Linked DNA regions of Homo sapiens. The protein of the gene in region 2 interacts with the protein of the main gene of each other region in a biochemical or structural test. Each region holds a gene or a part of one and is shown on either strand. Other genes may lie near its edges. The genes, in order: PDLIM1, RGS12, TJP3, ITGB3, DGKK, GRIP1 and APBA2.

The links.
Region 1: the proteins of RGS12 (region 2) and PDLIM1 interact in a test that uses a peptide from one of them, tested with the Homo sapiens proteins (one large-scale study listed by IntAct).
Region 3: the proteins of RGS12 (region 2) and TJP3 interact in a test that uses a peptide from one of them, tested with the Homo sapiens proteins (one large-scale study listed by IntAct).
Region 4: the proteins of RGS12 (region 2) and ITGB3 form a complex in vitro, tested with the Homo sapiens proteins (one study listed by IntAct).
Region 5: the proteins of RGS12 (region 2) and DGKK interact in a test that uses a peptide from one of them, tested with the Homo sapiens proteins (one large-scale study listed by IntAct).
Region 6: the proteins of RGS12 (region 2) and GRIP1 interact in a test that uses a peptide from one of them, tested with the Homo sapiens proteins (one large-scale study listed by IntAct).
Region 7: the proteins of RGS12 (region 2) and APBA2 interact in a test that uses a peptide from one of them, tested with the Homo sapiens proteins (one large-scale study listed by IntAct).

The regions. Positions count from the first base shown.
Region 1 is NC_000010.11:95,284,504-95,288,003, forward strand, and holds part of PDLIM1 (PDZ and LIM domain protein 1), read right to left. Parts: intron 1-3,500. UniProt on the Homo sapiens protein: Cytoskeletal protein that may act as an adapter that brings other proteins (like kinases) to the cytoskeleton. Involved in assembly, disassembly and directioning of stress fibers in fibroblasts.
Region 2 is NC_000004.12:3,296,021-3,299,520, forward strand, and holds part of RGS12 (regulator of G-protein signaling 12), read left to right. Parts: intron 1-3,500. UniProt on the Homo sapiens protein: Regulates G protein-coupled receptor signaling cascades. Inhibits signal transduction by increasing the GTPase activity of G protein alpha subunits, thereby driving them into their inactive GDP-bound form.
Region 3 is NC_000019.10:3,728,884-3,732,383, reverse strand, and holds part of TJP3 (tight junction protein ZO-3), read right to left. Parts: intron 2,357-3,500; coding exon 2,254-2,356; intron 2,030-2,253; coding exon 1,678-2,029; intron 450-1,677; coding exon 346-449; intron 1-345. UniProt on the Homo sapiens protein: TJP1, TJP2, and TJP3 are closely related scaffolding proteins that link tight junction (TJ) transmembrane proteins such as claudins, junctional adhesion molecules, and occludin to the actin cytoskeleton.
Region 4 is NC_000017.11:47,309,327-47,312,826, forward strand, and holds part of ITGB3 (integrin beta-3 precursor), read left to right. Parts: intron 1-812; coding exon 813-878; 3' UTR 879-3,500. UniProt on the Homo sapiens protein: Integrin alpha-V/beta-3 (ITGAV:ITGB3) is a receptor for cytotactin, fibronectin, laminin, matrix metalloproteinase-2, osteopontin, osteomodulin, prothrombin, thrombospondin, vitronectin and von Willebrand factor.
Region 5 is NC_000023.11:50,468,026-50,471,979, forward strand, and holds the start of DGKK (diacylglycerol kinase kappa), read right to left. Parts: upstream 2,801-3,954; 5' UTR 2,654-2,800; coding exon 2,009-2,653; intron 1-2,008. UniProt on the Homo sapiens protein: Diacylglycerol kinase that converts diacylglycerol/DAG into phosphatidic acid/phosphatidate/PA and regulates the respective levels of these two bioactive lipids.
Region 6 is NC_000012.12:66,459,077-66,462,576, forward strand, and holds part of GRIP1 (glutamate receptor-interacting protein 1), read right to left. Parts: intron 1-3,500. UniProt on the Homo sapiens protein: May play a role as a localized scaffold for the assembly of a multiprotein signaling complex and as mediator of the trafficking of its binding partners at specific subcellular location in neurons.
Region 7 is NC_000015.10:29,115,895-29,118,815, reverse strand, and holds the end of APBA2 (amyloid-beta A4 precursor protein-binding family A member 2), read right to left. Parts: intron 1,755-2,921; coding exon 1,683-1,754; 3' UTR 501-1,682; downstream 1-500. UniProt on the Homo sapiens protein: Putative function in synaptic vesicle exocytosis by binding to STXBP1, an essential component of the synaptic vesicle exocytotic machinery. May modulate processing of the amyloid-beta precursor protein (APP) and hence formation of APP-beta.

The DNA.
Region 1 (3,500 bases), on a different chromosome or scaffold from region 2:
CCACTACGCCTGGCTAATTTTTGAATTTTTAGTAGAGACAGGGTTTCACCATGTTGGCCAGGCTGGCCTCAAACTCCTGACCTCAGGTGATTCACCCACCTTGGCCTCCCAAAGTGCTGGGATTACAGACATAAGCCACCAAGCCCAGCCTCTGTATGCATTTTCAATATCTTTATCTAAACTAGGTCCTATCTATGTTCTTATTGTCTTACTTGATACGAATGGTCGTGTCTATAAAAATTAGTCCCTGAGTGTTCAGTAAGGAATCTGGCCTCCTACAAGACCGCTGTGTTCTTCACAAAATCATTTTTAGTATTTATGGCATTTACCAAGGAGACAGTGTATTACACATGGGAAAGTGCACCACAGAACTCAGCCACGGATGAGCAGCCCAATTTGCCCAGGATGTGGCTAACAAGAGTATCAATAATCACACAGGGTGCTAACAGCCATACAGGAATTACCTTTTTTGTCTTAGGTTTCATGGGTATATTCGGTTTTGGACTTAGCTTGGCTACCGCAAGGTGGAACTGTTCACTGCCTGGTCATCTTCATCTACCACAAGAACCATTCCCAAATGCCCTCCTATCCCCCACAAGCAGGTCTTTCTCTAGCCAGTCCTTCCACTCCTCTGCTCTTGTTCTTCACTGTCCAAGTGGGCATGGAACCTCATAACTGGACTGTAAATTCTCCCAGGTGGGGCCATGACTTTCAGTTTTTCAGGAGGGACAGGGAAGGGAGGTGCTGCTTTCTGAGGTGCTCTGAGCTGAGGCCACAAGGCAACTGGAGAGCCACCCCAACCAACCTCAGGAGAATGAGAGGCTCCAGGGTGTGGAGCCCAGGAGTGTCTTATCCCTCATGTTGAAGCCTGCACCACCCTTAGCACTTTTCAGAGCTGTGTGCTGGGTTAACACTGTTAGCAATGAAATATTGACAGTTATGGCTTATTAGGAGGCAGAATATAGTGGTTAAAGCTGGCCTGGAAGTGAGTCTGCCTGGCTTCACTTCCCAGCTCTGCAATTGTCTGACTTTGTGTTCTGTGTCCCTCTGTCATGGGTTGTGGGGAATACAGAAGAAGATAATGTAAGTGCATGCTTAGCACAGAGCAGGCACTCAAAAAATGTTAGCTGTTATTAATATATTACTATGACATAGAGATTAAGACTACAGGCTTGGAAGCCGGACTCCCCAGCCAAACTCCAGCTCTACCACTCACTGCTATATGATGCAGGCAGTGTACTTAAGGTCTCCAAGCCTCAGTTCCCTCATCTGTAAAATGGGGATCTTAATCCTACCTCACAAAATACGTGTGAAGATCACTGAATATATTATGGTCTTAGAATGGTGCCTGGCATATTAAAAGTCCTATATATGTTTTAACTATGGTTATTACTGCAAGCAGATCAAATAAATATTTCTCACACAAATCTTTCAAATGTAAATGGATGCTGCTGTGATTAACAGAAGACAAATACATCTGAAACATTCCTGAAATCACAGTGTTTTCTAAATCAACTTATGATTGAAGGTACAACTAATGCCATGAGAGACTAGGACACTCTAACAATAAAAAAGTGGGCTCTTGGCTCATGCCTGTAATCCCAGCACTTTGGGAGGCTAAGGTGGGCAGGTCACTTGAGGCCAGGAGTTTGAGACAAGCCTGGCCAACATGGCGAAACCCCATCTCTACTAAAAATACAAAAATTAGCCACATGTGGTGGCTCATGCCTGTGATCCCAGCTACTCAGGAGGCTGAGGCACAAGAATCGCTTGAACCCAGGGGGTGGAGGTTGCAGTGAGCCGAGATCATGCCACTGAACTCTAGCCTGGGCAACAGAGCGACACCCTGTCTCAAAAAAAAAAAAGTAGCTCTCATATTCAAAGGGTATGAAAACCTCTGGGTTTGCTTGCTTATTATTTTATTTTATCTTTACAGGGAATATTATTTTATTTTATCTTTACAGGGAACTGAACCCAGGAGAAGACATATGATTTTCCCAGGATCACCCACCAAGGTGCTCCGGACTAGAGCTCAGCTTGAGTCCCTGCCCTGGACATTGTACCAGGCCCTCAATTAAAGTCCTGGAAGCTTCCCCCAGGCTTTCCTCTGAGACCTACTGGAAGCGAAATAATCCTTTAAAAGTTAGTTTTCTGACACAACCACTTTTGCTCCAGTCTCTATCCTATCCTTTACAAGGAAGTTGAGTAGTAAGTCAGCCAGTGAGAAATTATGTAAATTCAACCAAATTACCTAACCTGTGAGCACCTGAGCTTTTCTGTTTGCAAAAGGCAAAGAATGCTAGCTTTCCTCTCCTCTGTGGAGCAAGAGTTAAGGCATGGCCTAAGAATGTGCCAGTCCTATCCTGATCCCAGTACACAGCAATTCCTTGGTGCTTTTCCCAGTCCTGGTCAGCCTAGGAGAATATGACCCAGACGCTTAGATGACACTCTCCTCTCAGTCATCTACCTGGCTGCAATACCCTAAAGCCACTGTTCTTCCCTCTTGCCTCCTCAAACAAACCAGCAAGGTTGGCATCAGGAGTTTAGGGAGGGGAGACTATCTGGTCAGAGGGTGATAATGTAGTATGGGCTCAGGCATTCACTTACATGTCATTCTCTTTGGTTTGTCCTCTTCCCCCTCTCTCCTTAAGTCAGCTGTGAGCAGCTGAAGTCGCTAATATTTCCCAGGTATCAATTTCACAGACCAAGGGCATGCAGCACAATGGCCATTAAAACATAATGACCCTTTTTGGACATTTCCTGCTTTTCATAATCTGACAGACAAACCCTTCTCTTTCAATCTTTACGACATGATGTAAAATCTATCTGAATCCGGAAATACCACTCTTAAAAATCAGAAATGACCCTCTGGCCACAGTAACCATTATTAAGCATCCCTTGGGATACTTGAGAAAAAGCATAAGCATTTGCCACAGAACCGCTCAGCTCTTAGCAAAGGGTTCCCCAGGACTCCAGAGACAAATGAGCAACTCCTCCAACTAAGGGCATCCCTTGATCTTGGCCTCACCCTTTCCTGTCTTTTATCAGTTGCTGGGAGAGAAAAACAGTCAACATAAACTGAGTTGCAATGTTGGCCTGGGTATTTCTCTGAAGGCTTCCCTTGAAAGTAACTAGAGGGAAGGAGAAATTAACATGGAAAATTTTTTTAATTAAAAAAATACCTCAAGGAAATGGGCAAGTGTTGATTTGAAGCAGGAACTGACAGAAAAAAATATCAGAGAACAGTGGCAAATGTGTGGCTGGATCATCAGGGAACACAAGGCAAGAGCACTAAACGAGAATGTGGGTAAAAGAAGCTAGCCTATGTCCACTTAAAGTTGGAAACCTGGGTTGAAATTTTAAGTTGATAACGATACTAGATGAAAACATTAAGGAGCTAAAGAAGCTGTTCACACACACACACACGTGTTCTGTATGAGTCTGTTCAGAAACAGGCAAAATTAAGCTATGGTATTTGGGATACCTAATTTAGGTGGTAA
Region 2 (3,500 bases):
CAGTCAGCTTCTGGAGGCTGGAGGAGAGCCGTTCACCCCCCTGGTCAGCTTCTGGGGGCTGGAGGAAAACTGCCCCCCTGGTCAGCTTCTGGGGGCTGGCCTCATTCCTTGGCTCCCGGCTCCTGCCCTGCCTCCATTGTCACATCGCTGTCTTTCTCCTCCTCTTTATTTTCTCCTTTTAGAGACAGGGTCTCACTTTGTTGCCCAGGTGGAGTGCGGTGGCACAATCATAGCTCACTACAGCCTTGAACTCCTGGCTCAAGCCATCCTCCTGCCTCAGCCTCTTGAGTAGCTGGGACCCCAGGCATGTGCCACCATGCCCAGCTAATTTTTTCTGTTTTTTTTTTTTGGTAGAGATGGGGTCTCACTATGTTGCCCAGGCTGATCTTGAACTCTTAGCCTCAAGTGATCCTCCTGCCTTAGCTTCTCAAAGGGTTGGGATTGCAGGCACGAGCCACCGCGCCTAGCTTCTGTCTTCTTCTGCCATGTTCAAATTTCCAGGATAATCTCCTTGTCCTGGGAGCCTTAGTTTACTCACATCTGCAGATCCGTATTGCCGTATGGCTTTCACAGTCCCAGGGATTAGGGCCTGGATATCTTTGGGGATCGCTATTCAGCCTACAGCAGGCTCCTCACTTGTCTTCGAAATGACTTCACTTTTCCCATTGTGTGCGAGGAGCACCCGTCTCATGCCTCTTCTCTGGGATGGGCAGGGTTTGTCCAGGGAAGGTCCCTGTGGTTTCACTTCCCTGCCCTTGGGGAGAGGCGGGAGCCATCCTGGAAACAGGTGTCCTGGGAAGGAAGACAAGCCTTGCTCAGGATGCAAGCCCCAGTCATGAGAGGTTGTGGGAGGTCACTCATGCTGTGCCTTTTTAGGAGGTGGGGTCGTTACCAGTTCCAAACTGGATACTCCACACAGTGCTCATGCAGTTTTACCTGTGGTTTTGGGGGCCACCGTTGCAGAAGTTGCCTAGATTCTTCCATGAAGGAGCCTCTTGCCTCGGGCTCCGGGCAAGGAACTCTTGTGTTAGAAGTTCCCTTCTTCTGTGTCTTTTAAGGTCTGGACTTCAGTGAAAGAGAAAAGAAACATCTAGTTTGTTCTTTCTGTTTTTCTTTTCTTTCTGCTTTTCCATGCACTTGCTGTCCCCAACTCTGTAATCATGGTGATACCCGATACGCATACACACTCTACTCACATATCTTTTCCTACATCTTTGTGTCCCTTAGCAGTGATCTTAGTTGTCCTTCCAGCATGCCTGAAAAAGGGCTGAGTCTGTGGATTGAAGCGTCCAGTTGTAGGCATTCTCCTGCCCTGCCTGGCCGCAGCCCCCAGAGGCGGGATCCTAAGTGGTCTGTTTTCTCAGGCATTTACTGCTGTTGAAGCTGCTCCTTTAAAGCTTAAGACATTCTTTTTTTATTTCTCCCAAAGGCCGTGGGGAGGTTTAGCTCTCCTCTGTCCCACCAGCCTCCCTGTCCCTCTATGTGCCATCATAATCACTGCATTTTTGGTGAAATCGACAGTCCTTGCTCTTGTGTGACTGTAAGCATTGCTCATTACTGCGCCAAGGAGTGCCCTGAGCACAGGTCCTCTCGCACAGCCCTGTGGATTAGCATCTTCTAGTCACCCACCTATCAAAATGGTTTGTTTTTCATTGCATCCAGGACACTAGCCCCATCCCCACCCCTTTGGGATTGGAGCCTTCTCCCTGCTCTCGTTTGCCCTGGTCTCCAGGAGACCTGCTGCGCCGCTGTCACCTGCATTTCCCGCTGCTGTCCTCCATCTGTGGGGCTCCCTGTGCACTGGGTCCTGCTCTTCTCTCTCTGCTTGGCTCACTCCTCGTTTTGCTGAAGTCCTACTCTTTTGATACCTAAGAAACATCACATAGGTATTTTTTTTGGTCCTTGATTTAGAAAACATCTTTATTTTACTCTCCAATTACCTTTTAACTTAGCTGGGTATAAAATTTTAGACAATGATTTTTTCGGAATTTTGAAAATGTTGCTTCATTGCATTTGGTTTCTGTGCTGTTGAGGTCTGACGCCATTCTGATTTCAGTTCTTCTGTGTGTGATCTCTCCTGCCTCAAGCTCATAGAAGCGGCTCTTTTCCCTCAGTGTTCTGAGAAGCCCGATAATGGCATCTGCTTCCGTTTATTGTGCTGGGCACTCCGTGGGCCCTTTCAGTCTGAGGATAGAAGTTTTTAAATTTCAAAGATAATTTTCTTTCAGTTTTGCTGTTTTCTCTTTCTGGAACTTTTATTTGGAGGTTGGACCTCCTAGGTTGATCCTCTAATTCTCTTTTTTCTCATCTTGTTGATCTCTTTGATGTTTGTTCAATTTTTTTTTTAAGAGACGGAGTCTCACTCTTTTGCCCAGGCTGGAGTGCAGTGGTGCAGTCATAGCTCGCTGCAGCCCCAAACTCCTGGGCTCAAGCGATCCCCCTGCCTCAACCTCCTGAGTAGCTGGGAACACAAGCATGCACCCCCACAACTGGCAATTTTTACTTTTCATTTTATTTTTTCATAGTCTCGTCATGTTGCCCCTTTGCTGTTTCTAAGAAGTCAGTCACTCTGGTAGCTGCGTTGCTCCTTTATGTTATATGATGAGGTGCTTTCAAGCTCCTCCTGGGATTTTTGGCTTCCAGCAGTTTGATTGTGATGTTCTTAGGAGGGTTTGCTTTGTATTTGTCCTGCTCAGGGTTTGTTGAACTTCTTGGATATGTAATTTTTCACCATCTTCAAACTGCTATTAAGTTTCGTGCATTTTAAAATTTCAGTTACAGTAGTTTTTATTTCTAGAATTTTCACTTATTTTTTATGGTTGCCATTTCTCTGCTCTGTCATTTGTTTATTGTGATCATACTGTCATTAAATCTTTGAACACATACTAGCGGCTTTAATGTTCTTTTCTGCTAATTTCAACACCTGCATTACCTCAGGATCAATTTCTATTGGCTTCTTCCAACTATGGGCCACATCTTCCTGTTTCTTTGAACATCTAGTGTTATTTGATGGTGTACTGGACATTGTAGATGGTAACTGTAGTGACTTCTTTTTTCTGAAGAGTGTTGATTTTTGTTCTGGAAGTTAATTTGTCTGGACTCAAATGAAAATCTCTGCTGCAGTCTCTGCTTGGTGCTGTTGACCTTCCGGCTGCCTCCTTCTGCTGGACTCTGGGGTCTCTCTGTGCATGGATGGCTCACCACTGGCCAGGACCTAGGCAGAATTTACTAACAGATCTCACGACTGCCTCTTCCCCAGTGACCTCCTTTCTGAGATATGCCCCTCACTGTTCAGCCACCCAGCCCTCCCCAAGCCCTATCTTGGACTCTTCAAGCTGGGAGGATCACAACTTCTACCTGTGCTCTAGCCATTTTTAGAAACACTTGTTTTAGTTGGTGCAGCTCTCTCCTTTCAGGGGACAACTCCCCTCCACTTTCTGCCTGCTTTTCATAGCTCTCCAGGACCTCCCAGAGTTGGTTTTTGTGTCTTGTGTCTGGTT
Region 3 (3,500 bases), on a different chromosome or scaffold from region 2:
GCTCCCCTAAACCTGGTGACTGGGTCATTAGCATCCAGTCACCTAGGGTAGGTCCAGGAGTCAGCTGCCCACATGAGTCTCTGATGCACATCAAAGCTAGAGGGTATTAGAAACAGACAACCCCATGGGGATACTAGAAACCGACATTTGGCTGTGGATTAGTAGTAGCTGGGGAAAAAGGGGGTTTTATGCCTGGCCATCTGCAACCTTTGAGATACAAGCAACAACACTGAAGGTAAATGCTTTGGGGCCCAGTTCTGCTGTCCTTGCTGTATGACTCCGTGGGACTGCCCGCCCCAACCCTGCCTTGTCTCCCTGCTCTCAGGACAAGAAGCCCGGCCTCACCTGTAGAATGAGATCTCCTTCCTGCAGCCCACGGTGCCGGGCAGCCAGGCCCGAATCTGTAATGTGCTTGATGAAGATCTGACTGCCCAGCTTGACGCCAAACTCTGTAAGGGGGGAGGAGGGAAACTGAGGCAGGACTCTGGAGACGGGTGCCTGGGAGCATTCTCCTGCTGTAAGCAGTCCAGGTGCGGGCCCTCCCATCCTAACACCTTGATGGCATCATAAGGAGAACAGTGATGTCGCCCGTAGGACCCGAGATCTGATTGTGTCAATGACATCTCCACGGGGCGGGGACACCAGGTCACCGTGCCACTCGTGATGTTGCCATGCACAGGCTAAGGGCATTCTATTGCTCATAACATCATCATTGTTTCAATTTTTATTTTTTATTTTTTAATTTTTTTCGAGAAGGAGTCTCACTCCTATCGCCGGGGCTGGAGTGCAGTGGCAAAATCTCAGGTCACTGCAACCTCTACCTCCCGGGTTTAAGCAATTCTCGTGCCTCAGCCTCCCAGGTAGCTGGGATTACAGGTGCACACCACCACGCCTGGCTAATTTTTGTATTTCTAGTAGAGATGGGGTTTCATCATAGTGGTCAGGCTGGTCTAGAACTACTGGCCTCAAGTGATCTGCCTGCCTTGGCCTCCCAAAGTGCTGGGATTACAGGCATCAGCCACCACACTCAGCCAGGCCTCCTCTTATAAGGACCCTGTGGTGACACTGGGCCCCCCAGATCATCCAGGATCACCTCTGAGCTCAGGGTCCTTCACTCCATCCCATCTGCTGAGTCCCTCTTGCTAAGTGAGGTGGCCTAAACAGAGGTCCCGGGGATCAGCGCGGGGACATGTTGATAAAATGGTTCTGGGCCCCAAGTGGCTGACAGGTGATATGGCTCAACCTAGCCCAGAATTAGGGACCACCAGGTTCAGAGAGAAAGAGCTAGAGAGAATATATGAAATACAGACAGGCAGAAAGGGACAGAAAAGCAGAAAGTGGGGATTTGTGGTGGGGGGAGCGAGGAGCAAGAAGATGCCAGGTGTAGTTGTAGCTTCCAGGCTGGGCGCGGTGGCTCACGCCCACAATCCCAGCAAGCACTATGGGAGGCCGAGGTGGGTGAATCACCTGAGGTCAAGAATTCGAAACCATCCTTGCCAACATGGTGAAGCCCCATCTCTACCAAAAGTACAAAAATTAGCCAGGCATGGTGGCGGGCGCCTGGAGTCCCAGCCACCAGGGAGGCTGAGGCAGGAGAATCACTTGAAACCGTCGCCCATCCGACCACGGTGCCCTGTGTCCAGTACTGATCGTGTCCGACCTCCCGCCTCTTCTGACCTTCGCTGTCTCTCCTCTTCACCAGCACTGACTTCACAGGCTTCATCTGCACGTCCTGCCGTGGCAGCCGCTTAAAGCCGGACACCAGGGCCAGCCCGTTGGCCTCAGAGCCACCACCTGGGCTCCTACGCCCATGGCTGCCGGCCCGGCCCCGGCGACCAGGCCTCGGCCGGCGGGAGCGCTCGTCCCAGGAGCGGCCGGAGCCACTGGATGAGTCGCCGTCATAGCCCCGGCCCTGGTCCACCTCCTCCACCCGCTGGGGCCCATCGTCTTCATCCGAGTCCTGGCGCCCTGGGCTGGAGGGGCTGGCTTTGGTGGCGGGCAGGTGGATCCTCCGGGGACGTTTCACTGTCTGTTAGAGGAGGGGACAGGAAGGGTCAGCTACAGGCAAGGGCTGGGGGAGGCTCTGCTCAGCCCCCGGGTGGCCCTGGGGGACACCAGTCTCTCTCTGGGCCTCAATGTCCAAACTGTAAGATGAGAAGATGACTCCTTGCTCTCAGAAGCTTACAACCCCCACAGCGGCACGACCCAGGCTGGGGTCAGAGATGCTGGCCATGCCAGGGGCTGCCTACTCACGATGTTGGCCATCTTGGTGCAGGTCTTGAGTATCTGAATGGCAAACGCGGAGGTGGCATTCTCCATGGAAACCCCGTTCACCATGACGATGTGGTCGCCTGTCCTGAGAGAGGAGGGCGGGTCTTACGGAGGAGGCTTTGCAGGGGAGACCCTCGTAACAAGCCCTCCCTGGGGAGGGGGTGCCCCTGGAACCTCCAGATCTACAAGGCCTGGTTCTAATTCATTGGTGTCCCTAGGTTCACAAAGACATTTATCCTTCTGGGCCTCCGTTTTCTCACCTGTAAAATGGAGCCAATTGTAGAACCTACTATAATCATAGAGTGGAAGCTACATTTTTTTTTTTTTTTTTGAGACAGAGTCTCACTCTGTTGCCCAGGCTGGATTGCAGTAGCATGATCTCAACTCACTGCAACCTCCACCTCCTCGTTTCAAACGATCCTTCTGCCTCAGCCTCCCTAGTAGCTGGGACTACAGGTGCCCGCCACCACACCCGTCTAATTTTTGTATTTGTTAGTAGAGATGGGGTTTCACCATGTTGGCCAGGCTGGTTTTGAACTCCTGACCTCAGGTAATCCGCCCACCTCGGCCTCCCAAAGTGCTGGGATTGCAGGTGTGAGCCACTGCACCCGGCCTTGAAGCTACAGCTACACCTGGCATCTTCTCACTCCTCGCTCCCCACACCACAAATCCCCACTTTCTGCTTTTCTTTCCCTCTCTTCCTGTCTGTATTTCATATTTTCTTTCTAGCTCTTTCTCTCTGAACCTGGTGGTCCCTAATTCTGGGCTGGGCTGAGCCATATCACCTGTCAGCCACTTGGGGCCCAGAACCATTTTAACAACATAATTCCAAGAAGCATCAAACCCTCAAACACTCGATGGTTTCCAGGACTTTATGTTCCAAAAGGGCTCTGGGGCCACTATGACCCCAAGAATTCCTGTGAAGGACCAGGAAGTACCTTAGGGAAGTGAGGCCCAAGTCTCTGACACTGTCCTACTGCCAAGTCCGAGCCCTGTGTTGACAGAGCTGGAAAGTGCCAGGCTCACAAAGGTTTCTCCTCACCTCACTTACTTTCTTTTTGAGACAGAGTCTCACTCTGTCACCCAGGCTGGAGTGCAGTGGCGCAATCTTGGCTCACCGCAACCTCTGCCTCCCGGGTTCAAGCAAGTCTCCTGCCTCAGCCTCCCGAGTAGCTGGGATTACAGGAACACGCTACCACATCCCGCTAATTTTTGTAATTTTAGTAGAG
Region 4 (3,500 bases), on a different chromosome or scaffold from region 2:
ATAGGCATAAACCACCATGCCTGGCCATGGTTAGTGCTTGGCCAGATTAGATGAAAACAAATTAATAATTATTTGAGCAAAAGCTTTCCTCTGTGTTCTGAATTGCACCTGATACATTTCTGTCCCTTGTCCACATCTCCTATCACTGTCACAGGGAATGGAAAATAGGAGAAGGGCAAAAGAGACGGGGACACAGGGGTGAAATAGGAGAGGTTCTATCCCCGAATGCTGTGGAATCACTGAAGAGTGATAGGCTGAATATAGCTCCTTAGAAATAGTGGCAGGGAACAGGTGTGGTGGCTCATGCCTGTAATTCCAGCACTTTGGGAGGCTGAGGCAGGTGGATCGCTTGAGCTCAGGAGTTTGAGACCAGCCTGGGCAACATGAAGAAACCCCATCTCTACAAAAAAATGCAAAAATTAGCCAGACATGGTGGTGTGTGCCTGTAGTCCCAGCTACTTGGGAGGCTGAGGTGGGAGGATGTCTTGAGTCAGGGGAGGTGGAGGTTTCAGTAAGCCGAGATTGTGCCACTGCACTCCAGCCTGGGCAACAAAATGAGACCCTGTCTGAAAAAAAAAAAAAAAAAAAGAAACGGTGGCAGGATGGCATTCTACCTCATCTCCTCCTGTTATTTCCTATCAATTCCCATGCCAAGAACTAAAGTGTGAGCAAAATGAACATTATTCTGTTTCATTGATGATGTATTCCAGAGAACGGTGCCTTGGGAAAACTTCTGAGATGAATTTTAAACATTCAGGGTAGGGAAGGACTTAAGGAAGTCACTGTAAGATGCTATTCTGTTTCCTCCACAGGCCAACAACCCACTGTATAAAGAGGCCACGTCTACCTTCACCAATATCACGTACCGGGGCACTTAATGATAAGCAGTCATCCTCAGATCATTATCAGCCTGTGCCACGATTGCAGGAGTCCCTGCCATCATGTTTACAGAGGACAGTATTTGTGGGGAGGGATTTGGGGCTCAGAGTGGGGTAGGTTGGGAGAATGTCAGTATGTGGAAGTGTGGGTCTGTGTGTGTGTATGTGGGGGTCTGTGTGTTTATGTGTGTGTGTTGTGTGTGGGAGTGTGTAATTTAAAATTGTGATGTGTCCTGATAAGCTGAGCTCCTTAGCCTTTGTCCCAGAATGCCTCCTGCAGGGATTCTTCCTGCTTAGCTTGAGGGTGACTATGGAGCTGAGCAGGTGTTCTTCATTACCTCAGTGAGAAGCCAGCTTTCCTCATCAGGCCATTGTCCCTGAAGAGAAGGGCAGGGCTGAGGCCTCTCATTCCAGAGGAAGGGACACCAAGCCTTGGCTCTACCCTGAGTTCATAAATTTATGGTTCTCAGGCCTGACTCTCAGCAGCTATGGTAGGAACTGCTGGGCTTGGCAGCCCGGGTCATCTGTACCTCTGCCTCCTTTCCCCTCCCTCAGGCCGAAGGAGGAGTCAGGGAGAGCTGAACTATTAGAGCTGCCTGTGCCTTTTGCCATCCCCTCAACCCAGCTATGGTTCTCTCGCAAGGGAAGTCCTTGCAAGCTAATTCTTTGACCTGTTGGGAGTGAGGATGTCTGGGCCACTCAGGGGTCATTCATGGCCTGGGGGATGTACCAGCATCTCCCAGTTCATAATCACAACCCTTCAGATTTGCCTTATTGGCAGCTCTACTCTGGAGGTTTGTTTAGAAGAAGTGTGTCACCCTTAGGCCAGCACCATCTCTTTACCTCCTAATTCCACACCCTCACTGCTGTAGACATTTGCTATGAGCTGGGGATGTCTCTCATGACCAAATGCTTTTCCTCAAAGGGAGAGAGTGCTATTGTAGAGCCAGAGGTCTGGCCCTATGCTTCCGGCCTCCTGTCCCTCATCCATAGCACCTCCACATACCTGGCCCTGTGCCTTGGTGTGCTGTATCCATCCATGGGGCTGATTGTATTTACCTTCTACCTCTTGGCTGCCTTGTGAAGGAATTATTCCCATGAGTTGGCTGGGAATAAGTGCCAGGATGGAATGATGGGTCAGTTGTATCAGCACGTGTGGCCTGTTCTTCTATGGGTTGGACAACCTCATTTTAACTCAGTCTTTAATCTGAGAGGCCACAGTGCAATTTTATTTTATTTTTCTCATGATGAGGTTTTCTTAACTTAAAAGAACATGTATATAAACATGCTTGCATTATATTTGTAAATTTATGTGATGGCAAAGAAGGAGAGCATAGGAAACCACACAGACTTGGGCAGGGTACAGACACTCCCACTTGGCATCATTCACAGCAAGTCACTGGCCAGTGGCTGGATCTGTGAGGGGCTCTCTCATGATAGAAGGCTATGGGGATAGATGTGTGGACACATTGGACCTTTCCTGAGGAAGAGGGACTGTTCTTTTGTCCCAGAAAAGCAGTGGCTCCATTGGTGTTGACATACATCCAACATTAAAAGCCACCCCCAAATGCCCAAGAAAAAAAGAAAGACTTATCAACATTTGTTCCATGAGCAGAAAACTGGAGCTCTGGCCTCAGTGTTACAGCTAAATAATCTTTAATTAAGGCAAGTCACTTTCTTCTTCTTAAAGCTGTTTTCTAGTTTGAGAAATGATGGGATTTTAGCAGCCAGTCTTGAAGGTCTCTTTCAGTATCAACATTCTAAGATGCTGGGACTTACTGTGTCATCAAATGTGCGGTTAAGATTCTCTGGGATATTGATACTGTTTGTGTTTTTAGTTGGGAGATCTGAGAGACCTGGCTTTGGCAAGAGCAGATGTCATTCCATATCACCTTTCTCAATGAAAGTCTCATTCTATCCTCTCTCCAAACCCGTTTTCCAACATTTGTTAATAGTTACGTCTCTCCTGATGTAGCACTTAAGCTTCATTTAGTTATTATTTCTTTCTTCACTTTGCACACATTTGCATCCACATATTAGGGAAGAGGAATCCATAAGTAGCTGAAATATCTATTCTGTATTATTGTGTTAACATTGAGAATAAGCCTTGGAATTAGATATGGGGCAATGACTGAGCCCTGTCTCACCCATGGATTACTCCTTACTGTAGGGAATGGCAGTATGGTAGAGGGATAAATAGGGGGCGGGGAGGGATAGTCATGGATCCAAGAAGTCCTTAGAAATAGTGGCAGGGAACAGGTGTGGAAGCTCATGCCTGTAATTATAACCTTCAGCTACTAAGACAGGTGTGGTGGCTCACGCCTGTGATTATAATCTTCAGTTACTAAGACAGAGTCCATGAGAGTGTTAATGGGACATTTTCTTTAGATAAGATGTTTTATATGAAGAAACTGTATCAAAGGGGGAAGAAAATGTATTTAACAGGTGAATCAAATCAGGAATCTTGTCTGAGCTACTGGAATGAAGTTCACAGGTCTTGAAGACCAATATTATTTGTCAATATGTGGGGATAACCTGTAGCTGCATTCATGAGGTAGCAAATAGCAGTTTTGGCCTGTGGGGTGAACAGCTAAACAGTGTTCTGGCATCAGATAACACGGC
Region 5 (3,954 bases), on a different chromosome or scaffold from region 2:
TCCTGGTCTCCTGCCAGTGTTGCCAGATGTCTGTGGGTCAGCTAGCCAGCACGTCTGAGTGGGCACTACGTAGAGGAAACTAATCTGATTCCCCTTACCTTAATCTTCCTCATCTGTCTGGCAATGACATTTTCCTGTCAAACAGGTAGGAGATGCTTTCGCATGGGAGCAGGGGATGCTTTTCACTGGGGGAAGGGTCCTGGTCGCCAGTCAGCCTTTCAGAGGCCAAAGGGGAGATGCATTCTCTGGGTATTACGTCCCCACGTGTCAGTTTCACAGCCATGTTCCCAAAATTTCGCTTAAGATGGCCACAGGTCAGGTGATTCCTGCTTGTCTCTTTCCCACCAGCTTAATGCAAACTCTTCCAAAAAGACAAGATCAATCACCCGGTGAGGGTGAGCTCCCAAATCTAGCCACCCCAACTTTGCCCTTCTTAAGATCACTGCAGGAAAGGGTATTTTCAGGAAGGGGAGGGATACATCCCCTGGTGAGAGCTAGGGTGTTGAATTTTTAAAAACTTATCAGAGTCTCCCACCGTCATGTTTTATTTATTTTTAAACCTCTGCACTTTCTTTTCTCTGTGAAACTTTTCATTTTAGCCTTCTTTTTCAGTTATTCGTCATTGCAGATATTTTGCAAACTCAAGCCTCCCTACTAAGAACTCAGGAAGCAACCAATGCTTCCATTTCGTGATGCCAATCTGCCCCCTCCCCTCCCGCATTCTACATTCTATAAGTGTGCGGTCCACAGCAGAAGGGTTCCTGAGCCGTGTCCTTATGGTCTGCTAGGCAGCAGGATGGACCGGTATTGTTCGTGTGTTGTGTTATTCGTTTGTGTGTGTGTGTGTGTGTGTGTGAATGCGCGCGCGTGTGTATGTCTTCCTGCAGGGGAAGCTAAATTGAGGTGTGTGTGTGCATTATCCTGGTTTTCAGTTTTGTGGAACGAAGTTTAGGGTAAAGGAAGAGTAGGGAGAGTGCAGAGAAAGCAGGAAAGACAGGCATACTCCCGCTTAAGAGCAGACGGGGTTTCAGGGTCCAAGGTAAACACGAAAACCTTTTTCCTCCCTACTCCCCTTGGGCGAGTGCCAGAAGATTCTCCACTCATCTTTTCCCGGCTAAGTGTAACGATTTAGAAGGCGTCGCGGTAGACTGGTAGAGATGAAGGTTCCCCTTCACACGTTCTGCAATCCCAACTCCTATTTTCGTGTCTCTAAACCAGGACTCCTGTACCATTCCAATTGGCCCTGGTGCGGGATGCCAGTTGCCCCGTTTGTGACGCTGCGCAACATTGTATCACTGCGTTTGCACCTACCTGCTGGGAAATCCTGCAGACAGATGGAATGGTGGCTTCGACACACGCATGCTCTCCCCCTCCTCCCGGAGAACCCTGCCCTTCCCCTGCAGTGCGCGTGGGCGCCGCCCATCCCCTCGTCCTCACCAGGAGTACCAGCTCGAAGCAGCCGGCAGAGGCGCCGGGCACCTCCCTGGAGGGCCGCCAGTTGCGCCCAGCTGAGGCGCCCCCTCCCCAGTGGCAGGGAGGGGGCCAAGCAGGCGAAGGCTCCGCAGCTTGGGCCTCTGCGGCAGTGACCGCGGCTAAGAGGTGTGTCCCACCGCCCCCACTCAATCCGTCCGCTATGTATTCGGGGCCAGCCCCAAACACTTCTCCAGGTCTCTTGCGCTCCCCGAGGGTATCTTCCTCCTCTCTTTCAAGATATTGGCGCTCACCGCACTGTCGCTTCTCTTCAAGGGGAAAACTGCTCCGATTCCCACCCCCTGCTGTCACCCCCGTTTCTAGCCCCAAACAGCCCATTCTCGATTCCCACATGTTGCTTCCCGCCTCCCAACCCCTTCCCATTCCCCCGGGTTCCCCATCCCTGCATCTTTCTCAGCATCTTGGCCAGCCAGTGCCAGACAAGCGGGATGCAAGGGGTACCCGGAGTCCCGCGGGCTCCATAGCCATCTGACTTCGCCTTGCTTCTTTTCCCCGCTTCAGGGGGTCTTTTGCTTACCTTTATTCTGGACCACGACATTGGCGTTCTGGGCGATGGCGATGGCGATGGCGATGGCGAGGTCTTTAGACCTCTCTCTCGAGTGTCCACCGGACATTGCAATAGACATGGTGCTGGACTTGGACGGAACTCTGGAGCCGCCTCAGGGCAGAACTCTGGGGCCAGCTCTGTCACAGGTTCTGGGGTCGGCTCTGGGGCCAGCTCTGGGGCAACTTCTGGAGTCAGCTCTGGGGCCGGCTCTGGGACCGACTCTAGGGCAGGTTCTGGAGTCGGCTCTGGGGCAGACTCTGTGGCAGGTTCTGGGGCCGGTTCTGGGGCCGGCTCTGTGGCAGGTTCTGGGGCCGGCTCTGTGGCAGGTTCTGGGGCCGGTTCTGAGGCCGGCTCTGTGGCTGGTTCTGGGGTCGGTTCTGTGTACAGTTCTGTGGCTGATTCTGAGGTCGCCTCTGGACAGGGACCTGGAGCAAGCTCTGGACAGGGCTCTGGTATGGGTTCTGGCGAAGCCTCGGAGAGCAGCGGCGGAGCCGGCGGCGGAGCCGGTGGTGGTGGCGGCGGCGGCCAAGGCGGCGGAGGCTCTGGAGACTCAGCGGGCTGCTCTCCATCCTGAGGCGGGGCAGTGCCCTGGGCTGCGGCAGCTCCGCGGTCCATGGCCGCACACCGCTTCAGGTCTGGGCAGCCTGAGTCCCTAAGCCTGGAAGGCTAAAGTACCCTCGGGCGCCCCGCCCACTCCAGTCCGGCAGCCCCTCGCAGGGTGCCAAACTTTCCCCCATCCCACTCCATGGCTGGCTTGGCTCTGAGGTCTAACCCGTGGGCGCTCAGCGTCTCCCTATGCTGGAACACGCCCCTCAGTGTGCGCACACCTCTTCGTAAGCAGCCACGGGTCCGATGGGCGGGAAGCAGAGGGGCTTGCGAACGCGGACTGGGCAGAGCGCTTGATGACCTCCTAGCGACGCGCGGGAGGGGAGGGGAGAGACAAAAAGGGGAGGGGGAGTGGAGCGGCGTGGAGGTTGGGGGGCGGGCTGGAGCCTTGCCGTGTTTAACCCTTTAGTGACACGAATGAAAAAAAAAAGCCAGAGGCGAAGTTGAGGGTCTTTGCAATCCCCCAACCACTTAGCTGCTGGTCAGAATAGCTTCCATCCTGTGTCTGCTCTCTCACCTCAGCAGCAGGTGAGCTTAGCCTCGGACCAACCTCTTGCCCCCCATCTCCAAGCCTCGATGGGCAAGTAATGCTTTTTATCTAAGCCGGGAAAAGAAATTAAGCGGCATGGTGTGTGTGTGGTGGGGGGGGGGGGTGCGGGGGGGGCGGGTGTTCAGCCTCCTTTGGATTGAAGTACAATTTGACCCTCTTCGGTTTTTTGCATTTCTGAGCTTTGCCGTTGGGTACAGAGTTTGAGGTGATTCGGGAAAGGAGTGTGATGAGGGAGGCTGGCGCCCCGGCTTTCCGCAGCCTGCAGCCTCCCCGAGAGCAAGTCGAGAGTGCCCCGGCAGCAGCTGGGCTTCGCGCTCGGGAGCTGAGGCTATCTGGGCGTCTGTCTGGCTCGCCTATGCTATAGGAGCCTGCCTTGTGCTTTTAGCTGGATTTCCCAGCCATCAGCAGGAGTTTGTTTTTCCGCCCCCCCCAAACTTGTTAACGCGCGCGCGCGCGCGCGTGTGTGTGTGTGTCTGTGTGTGTGTGTGTGTGTGTCTTGGGCTGGGGAAATTCACTGCAACACCCACACCCTTTTCACCTCCTGAAGCAGTCTGACATTAGAGATGGGAGATTCTCTTGGGAAGAGAACGACTGATGCCTAGCGCAGCACCTTTCCCACCACATCGGAAGACTTTAGAAGCTCTTTCTGTTATAGTCACGTACACATACACACAAACCATCATCTTAGTCAGACCTAGACTTTAGACGCCAATATATTACCAATTGTAATTAAAATTTGAGAAGACTACCTGTTAAGCCA
Region 6 (3,500 bases), on a different chromosome or scaffold from region 2:
TTCTATAAGAGTAGGGATATACTTTGCCTGTCTTGCTCACTAAATATATCCTAGCAACTAGAACAGTGCCTGGTATATAATGACTAATACATGAATGAATGAATAAACAAATGCATGAATGAACGGGAATATCAGCCAGAGTGTCCATGTGAACACTGCAGCAGCATTTTCCTTGAGACAAAAGAGTATTTATTGCAGGAGATGTCCCTAATGGATTCTCTCTCACCATCCTCATTCTACTTTGGGTGTACAAGAAGACATTTCAGCAAGACGCAGTTATTACTGTGTTTGGCCAATTTACAACCACCGACACTTTAGCGTACTTTTCACAAAGTACCATCTGTGTTTCAAATGAAGCCAGGGTACGGTGAATGCACTTCGGGATTCTACACCCACCTTTTGACCCGCTTCTTCATTGAGAGCTTTGAAAATTACTGGGCATTTGTTAGGACTGTACAGCACAATTAATAAGTCAATAAGGAAGATATTATTTACCAGCTATTGCTTTCTCAGACTGTGCCAATTGCTACAGGCAGGTTAAAGGTCATACCATTTACCTTGACTTTGAATTACTACTGGGGATTAAATCTTCATACATATAAAATAATTAAGAGACAAAAATGATATAAGATAATGCACAAAACTGTATGCCATGGATGATGAATGCAAAAGGTGTTGAACAAATAATGTAGGCCAGAGAAGAGAGCTGCTGCCTATTTTGAATGTACACTCCAAATGTTTTCTGTTTTACAGTGGTGTACTTGATAGGCAAGTATTTCCAAAGTTTAATAATAAGATGTTACATTTTTGGCATGTCCTGTCATTTTGCAAAGAGCACTTATAGACATTCTCTCATTTAATAAAGCCAATAATTGTAGCCTACTTTCACTGATTACTTATTATATACTAGGCACTGTGCTAGGTGCTTTTTCATGGATTAGCTCAGACAATGTTCACAATATTCCTTTGAGGCAAGTATTATTATGACCCCCATTTTACAGATGAAGCAACTGAGGTATAGAAAAGTTGGGTAACTTGCTTAAGACCCCACGTGGTGGAGTCAGAGGTGAAGCTCTGGACACGTGATCCTAAAGTCCCCGCTTCAACCACCAGACATACCGCCTCTTCCTATGGGTATGTCTAAGTCCCTTGTTATGGATAAGAAAACAACACATTTAAAATATTATGGTTCTTGTATCATTCCATGGTGACGTCACTACTGCAGTCTCAAGAGATATATGGCCACAGAAGTTACTTTTCTTTCTTCTTTCTCTAATTGCAGCCTCTTACTCTGTTCAGGATGTTCGAGAGAGCAGACCACAGTGGTTCCAGGTTGCCCTGGAGCTCTCAAATGGAAGGTCCTCCTGGTACTGAATGTGTCGAGTCTAGTGACTCTGGTCACATTTTCCTTTCCAAAACGTCAGTTTCCTTCAATCCAATTATGTCTCCTGAAAACCCTCAGTGGGAAAAATTTCTAACCTCACTGAAAACTCATTTCTGTCAGCTTCTTTAATGCTGCTATTTATCAGTGAAAGGCATAGCTAATCTCTTATCCCAAGTTGAGATATTCATTTCCACACTGGCCTGAAAACTCTGTGGTATATGCTTTACTGCTAACACAATCTGGAAATTTGGGAAGTGTGTTGAGAGACACACTGTTCAGGCATCAGAGATCTTGAAAAAACAATCAGAACTTTCTTGTGGAGAAAGGGTAAAACTATGTAAAACTCCACTAGTCAAAAATTTGAGAATTGTAAACACAATAATAATTTTTTGTTTGTTTTTCTTCTTTACTATGATTTAATTATGTTTAGGAGCCAAAATTTATTTCCTCTTGGAAATCCAAGTCTGATTTTAATGTGCAATATAACGGAAACACCTGCTTGATAAGAAAGACAGTGAACAACTTTCAGTAAACGTAGACGATGGAGTCAGAAGTGGAAGCTAGAATTACTTAAACTTCCTATCAGTTTCCTATCCCTGCAACACAAACGACATCAGGTTTTCCACAATAAAGGCAAAAAATTTGTGCTTAGTCCATATATTTTAGTGTATAAATTAAACTCAAATTGCCTTGGCAGGTTAAAAAATTTAATATTCCATGAGTTGAAAACACTTGAATTATTTATGAATTGTATATAGGGCCAATTAAAGAAAAATAAAAGAGATTACTAAAGATGCTAACATTTTAAAAGGGTCTGGTATGCATTTCCGATTCGCTGATACCAGAATTTAGCAAGCAAAACCCCATGCTGAGAGAGCACTACACAGTGTACATTCTTATGGCTACTGTGCTCCAAATCCAATGATGACTGCCGATTAATTTAAAGAAACTTAAACAGCTTCAGAAATCTCTCCTCTCTGCCAGAGTGCAGGAAGGGCCCACGGGGCCTCCTGATAGGAATGGTGTGCATCCTTGTGAACGGCACCTTCCTACAGCTGTTTGCATTGCTATTCCAATACTGTGATGCTGATTTTCTTTTCATAACCTGCCTATGCTGCATCATTTCTCTACTCCAATGTGTAAAATTAAAATCTGATAAGGGTAATGTTGTACTAGAGATTTTCATTAGCTTCAGGGCTGTCTAAGCTCCATTTAATTAAAAAGGTTGCATCCAGCTGACTGATTTAGTATGAAAATTATCTGGTCCCTCTTTCCCCCCGCCCCAGACTGTGGAGAAGTGTAGTGCATTTTAAAAGGTGGGAGACACAATACAAATGACCCCCTCATAAGCAAAATTTCAATTTCAGAGAAAACTGCACTGTGTCTAAATATACAGAAATGCATTATCCTCCTTCAGGCCACCCTGACAATACTAGTGAGGCCTCTAATTTCAAGGAGTACAAAGGAATGGTGTTTGCTTTAAGGAATAGGGCAGGAGAGGGAGTCGGAACAAATATCCTACTGGAAAACTTGACTTCATTTGATTTGGGGCTCAAAGACCCCTTTCTCATACCAGGTTTTGCCTAAAGGTGCCTAGGTAGATGGTATAAACACCCAGCAAATGTATCTGTGAATTTCAAGGGAGTCAAAATACAGATACCTTCAGCTGACACTTTCTATTGAATAAATGGAGTTAAATATTCTGATTCTCCCAGACAAGATGTTTGCTCAGACAGGTTGTTCTCTATCCTAAGAAAAAAACTCCACTGGCAAAAGACATAATATATTGTAAACCAAGGCTTCATATAACTGGTTCCCTCTGATTCCTGCCAAATATTTGAAGGTTCTGCTATTAAAATCCACTTTACTTATTTATTTTTAAGTGAGAGCTTTACTATTTGCCTTCATTGGCCTTCATCTAGGCTGGAAATTCAAAATGTATACCAGGAAGTCAAATTATTTTCCTTGTCTGCACATTCAATTTGCACCAAAGACTTTTTTAAGAAAAAAATATCAAATAGCACTAGCCTGAAAATTTTTTCCTCGATGTTAGGGTTTCAAGCAAATTATGTGTGGCTTAGAAAAAAGACTTTGGAAGATGAATTAGAGTAAACAA
Region 7 (2,921 bases), on a different chromosome or scaffold from region 2:
AAGAAAGGTAAGTGCTGGCAGAGCTGCCAGAATTGTCACTCTAGACAGGCTGCAAAGGACCCACAGGTGCAGACAGGGTGCTGGGATGGGCGGTCCGGCTTTTACACACGCACACGCATGCACACCTTTCCCAGGGGCCATTTACGTTGAAATCTGAAGAAGCCCAAGGCTCCCTGGCTCCCTCATTCCATTAGTGAGTGCTCTGCGGACGTGTCTCCCTGCTGGGGCAAGTGGGTCAAGAACCTGGCGCTGACCCCGTGACCTGGTAGCATTGCTGGCACCTCCAGTTGCAGCGGGGCGTTGCCCAGCTGACACCTGGTGCCCAGAGCACCCACCCACCGAACTCATTAGTGACAGCTTCCAAGGTTCAGGATCCAGGAGGAGCACAGAGCAGCTGTGGCTGCCACCGCATAGTGAATTTGCAGAGCCGCATCCAAGCTGTGAATGAAAGGACAGGCGGGCACCCGCCGCTGAGGTAACAGACCAGTCACACACACGGCTTTTCATCACGACTTCAGGTTTATTAGTGATATGCGCGAAGTCTTCCTACGGGTAGCTGCATGCAACACACGGCACTCCTCGAATACAGTCATCCTAAAGCTTTAGTTACTGCGTGGTAAGGCTTCTTAAGTCACAGTGTATTCTTCAAGGCCTGGGCCAAAAAAAGAGACTTCGAGACAAGATGACGTCAGATTACATGGATCGCTAATGAACCGAGCTGGACTAGATCCGACTTGATCTACACACATGCCACTACTGCTCAGGGCCACTGCGCCACGCTGGCCAAGGGGTCTGCACTCACGGCTGGCTGCTTTAGGTGCGGCCAAGGTCGCGTTTTCTAGAGTGGGTTTCGTTTCCTCGGGGTCGCATGTGCGTGGATGTGTGTAGATCGATTTTAAAGAGGGGGCAGACACCTGTGCCCTCCTTGTCTCTGTGGGAGCCCTGCCCGGGTATGCAGCCGGGTGGGAGGGTGCCCAGAAGAGACGACGGGAGAGGCAGGTGTGGTCATTAGTCACATTGGAAAACCCTAGAGTCTGGAAAAAAGCCTGCCAAAATAAAAGTCCAAACAGTAATAATAGCATCTAAATAAATATGGAGTTTTCATGTTGTGGCCATCATCCTTTATTTACAATCAATCAATCAATCACATGTCCCCAAACTTTCATTACAAGTCGTGTCCTGGGAGCCAGGCTGCCCGTGTCCCTGCAGTCAGTGGCAGAGGCAGCTGTTTGGGACCATTGTGGGGGCCCCACAGGACCCCAGACGTCCCAGCCAAGGGGGCGGGAGGCAGGGGTGACGGCTGCCCTGCCCCGGGAGCCGCGTCCCTCGGAGGCGCCAGTTCGCTCCGCACAGCTTCAGGGAGGAAAGACACACACTCCACACCACGCACAGCTACCGAGACACACCCTGGCTTGTGCAGGGAGAAGACAGTCCAGAACGTGGCAAAATACTTGGAACGCTTTACAAACAAACATTTGTTCTGTGACTCTCCTTTGATAAAGACATACCCCTTTTTGGCAAAATGAAAAAAATCAAGTGGGTGGTGAGGGCACACCCTTTGGGGAGCCAGCGTCCGTGGCTGGGCTGTGGCGTCGGGGTCAAGTCTGCGGCCCGGCTCCCAGCTCCTCTGGGCCCGGGCGGCCCTGCCCGGTGTCCTGGCTGCGTGGCCAGGCTGGGGTGGCCTAGATGTACAGCGGGGTCTCCTGACCCGTGAGGAGCCTGAACATGGCGGCGGGCATGGTCTTCATGTGGATCTGCGGACAGAAACAGGAGGCTGAGCCGCTGCCCTCCCACCTCCCCTCCCACAATCAGGTGAAAGCAAAGGACAGAGGCAAACCCCCCAGAGTTCTGCTTCAAATGCCCATCTCCTAGAGTGAAGGAGGAAGGCCAGCCTGCCCAGGCCTGGGGACACTTATGATGCCTTCCAGATGCAGCAGACTGAGACTCCAGGTCCCCACCCCTGGCTCCAGAGGAGTCAATACAGTTGAGTGCTAGTTTTGCTTCCAGTCCAGCTGACACCCGAGGGGTGAGAAATTGGACTTCTAGTGGTGACAACAGTTTGCCCATCCACTGGGGCTGGCTGGGGGTGGCCAGGCCTCGGCAGAAACTGCGAGGGATGCACTCTGCTTCACTGAGGAGGAGCTCAATGGGGGAAGACACACGCACCCCTTCTTTTTTTTTTTTTTTTGAGACGGAGTCTTGCTCTGTCGCCCAGGCTGGAGTGCAGTGGTGCAATCTCGGCTCACTGCAAGCTCTGCCCCCCGGGTTCATGTCATTCTCCTGCCTCAGCCTCCTCAGTAGCTGGGATTACAGGTGCCCGCCACCACACCCAGCGAATTTTTTTGTATTTTTTAGCAGAGACGGGGTTTCACCGTGTTAGCCAGGATGGTCTCAATCTCCCGACCTCGTGATACGCCCGCCTCGGCCTCCCAAAGTGCTGGGATTACAGGCCTGAGCCACCGCGCCCGGCCTACACCCCTTCTTACAAAACACACACGGGCCAGGAAAGTGTGCTGGGGGCTGGGAACAGGCTCGCTGGGGCCCAGGGCACCTCAAGTTCTTAGCCTTTGGGGATCGGTGAGCAAATGACCCTTTGGGGCCTGGCCTCGAGCCCTGACTCCAAAGGAGCTGGGTATACAAGCAAGGCCTCAGACCGCCCCAGGGAGACCAACCGTGTGGGTGGCGCGCCTTGTAATCCTTCTTTGCGGACACTGGGAAGGAGCAGACTCTAAACGTCTGCTTCAAGAACGGAAAGGGAGCTCTACTGCCCACTTCTCCTCTCCTGAGCACGACGCTCTCCCCTGTCCTGCCCGGGACTGTGCTAGGCTGCGGCCTCCGGATGGGGGGCCCTCGCACTGCCAGGGTCAGCTGCCGCAGGCATGCTGGCCTCCCCACGGGGTGCAGCCGCCGTGCATCTGCCC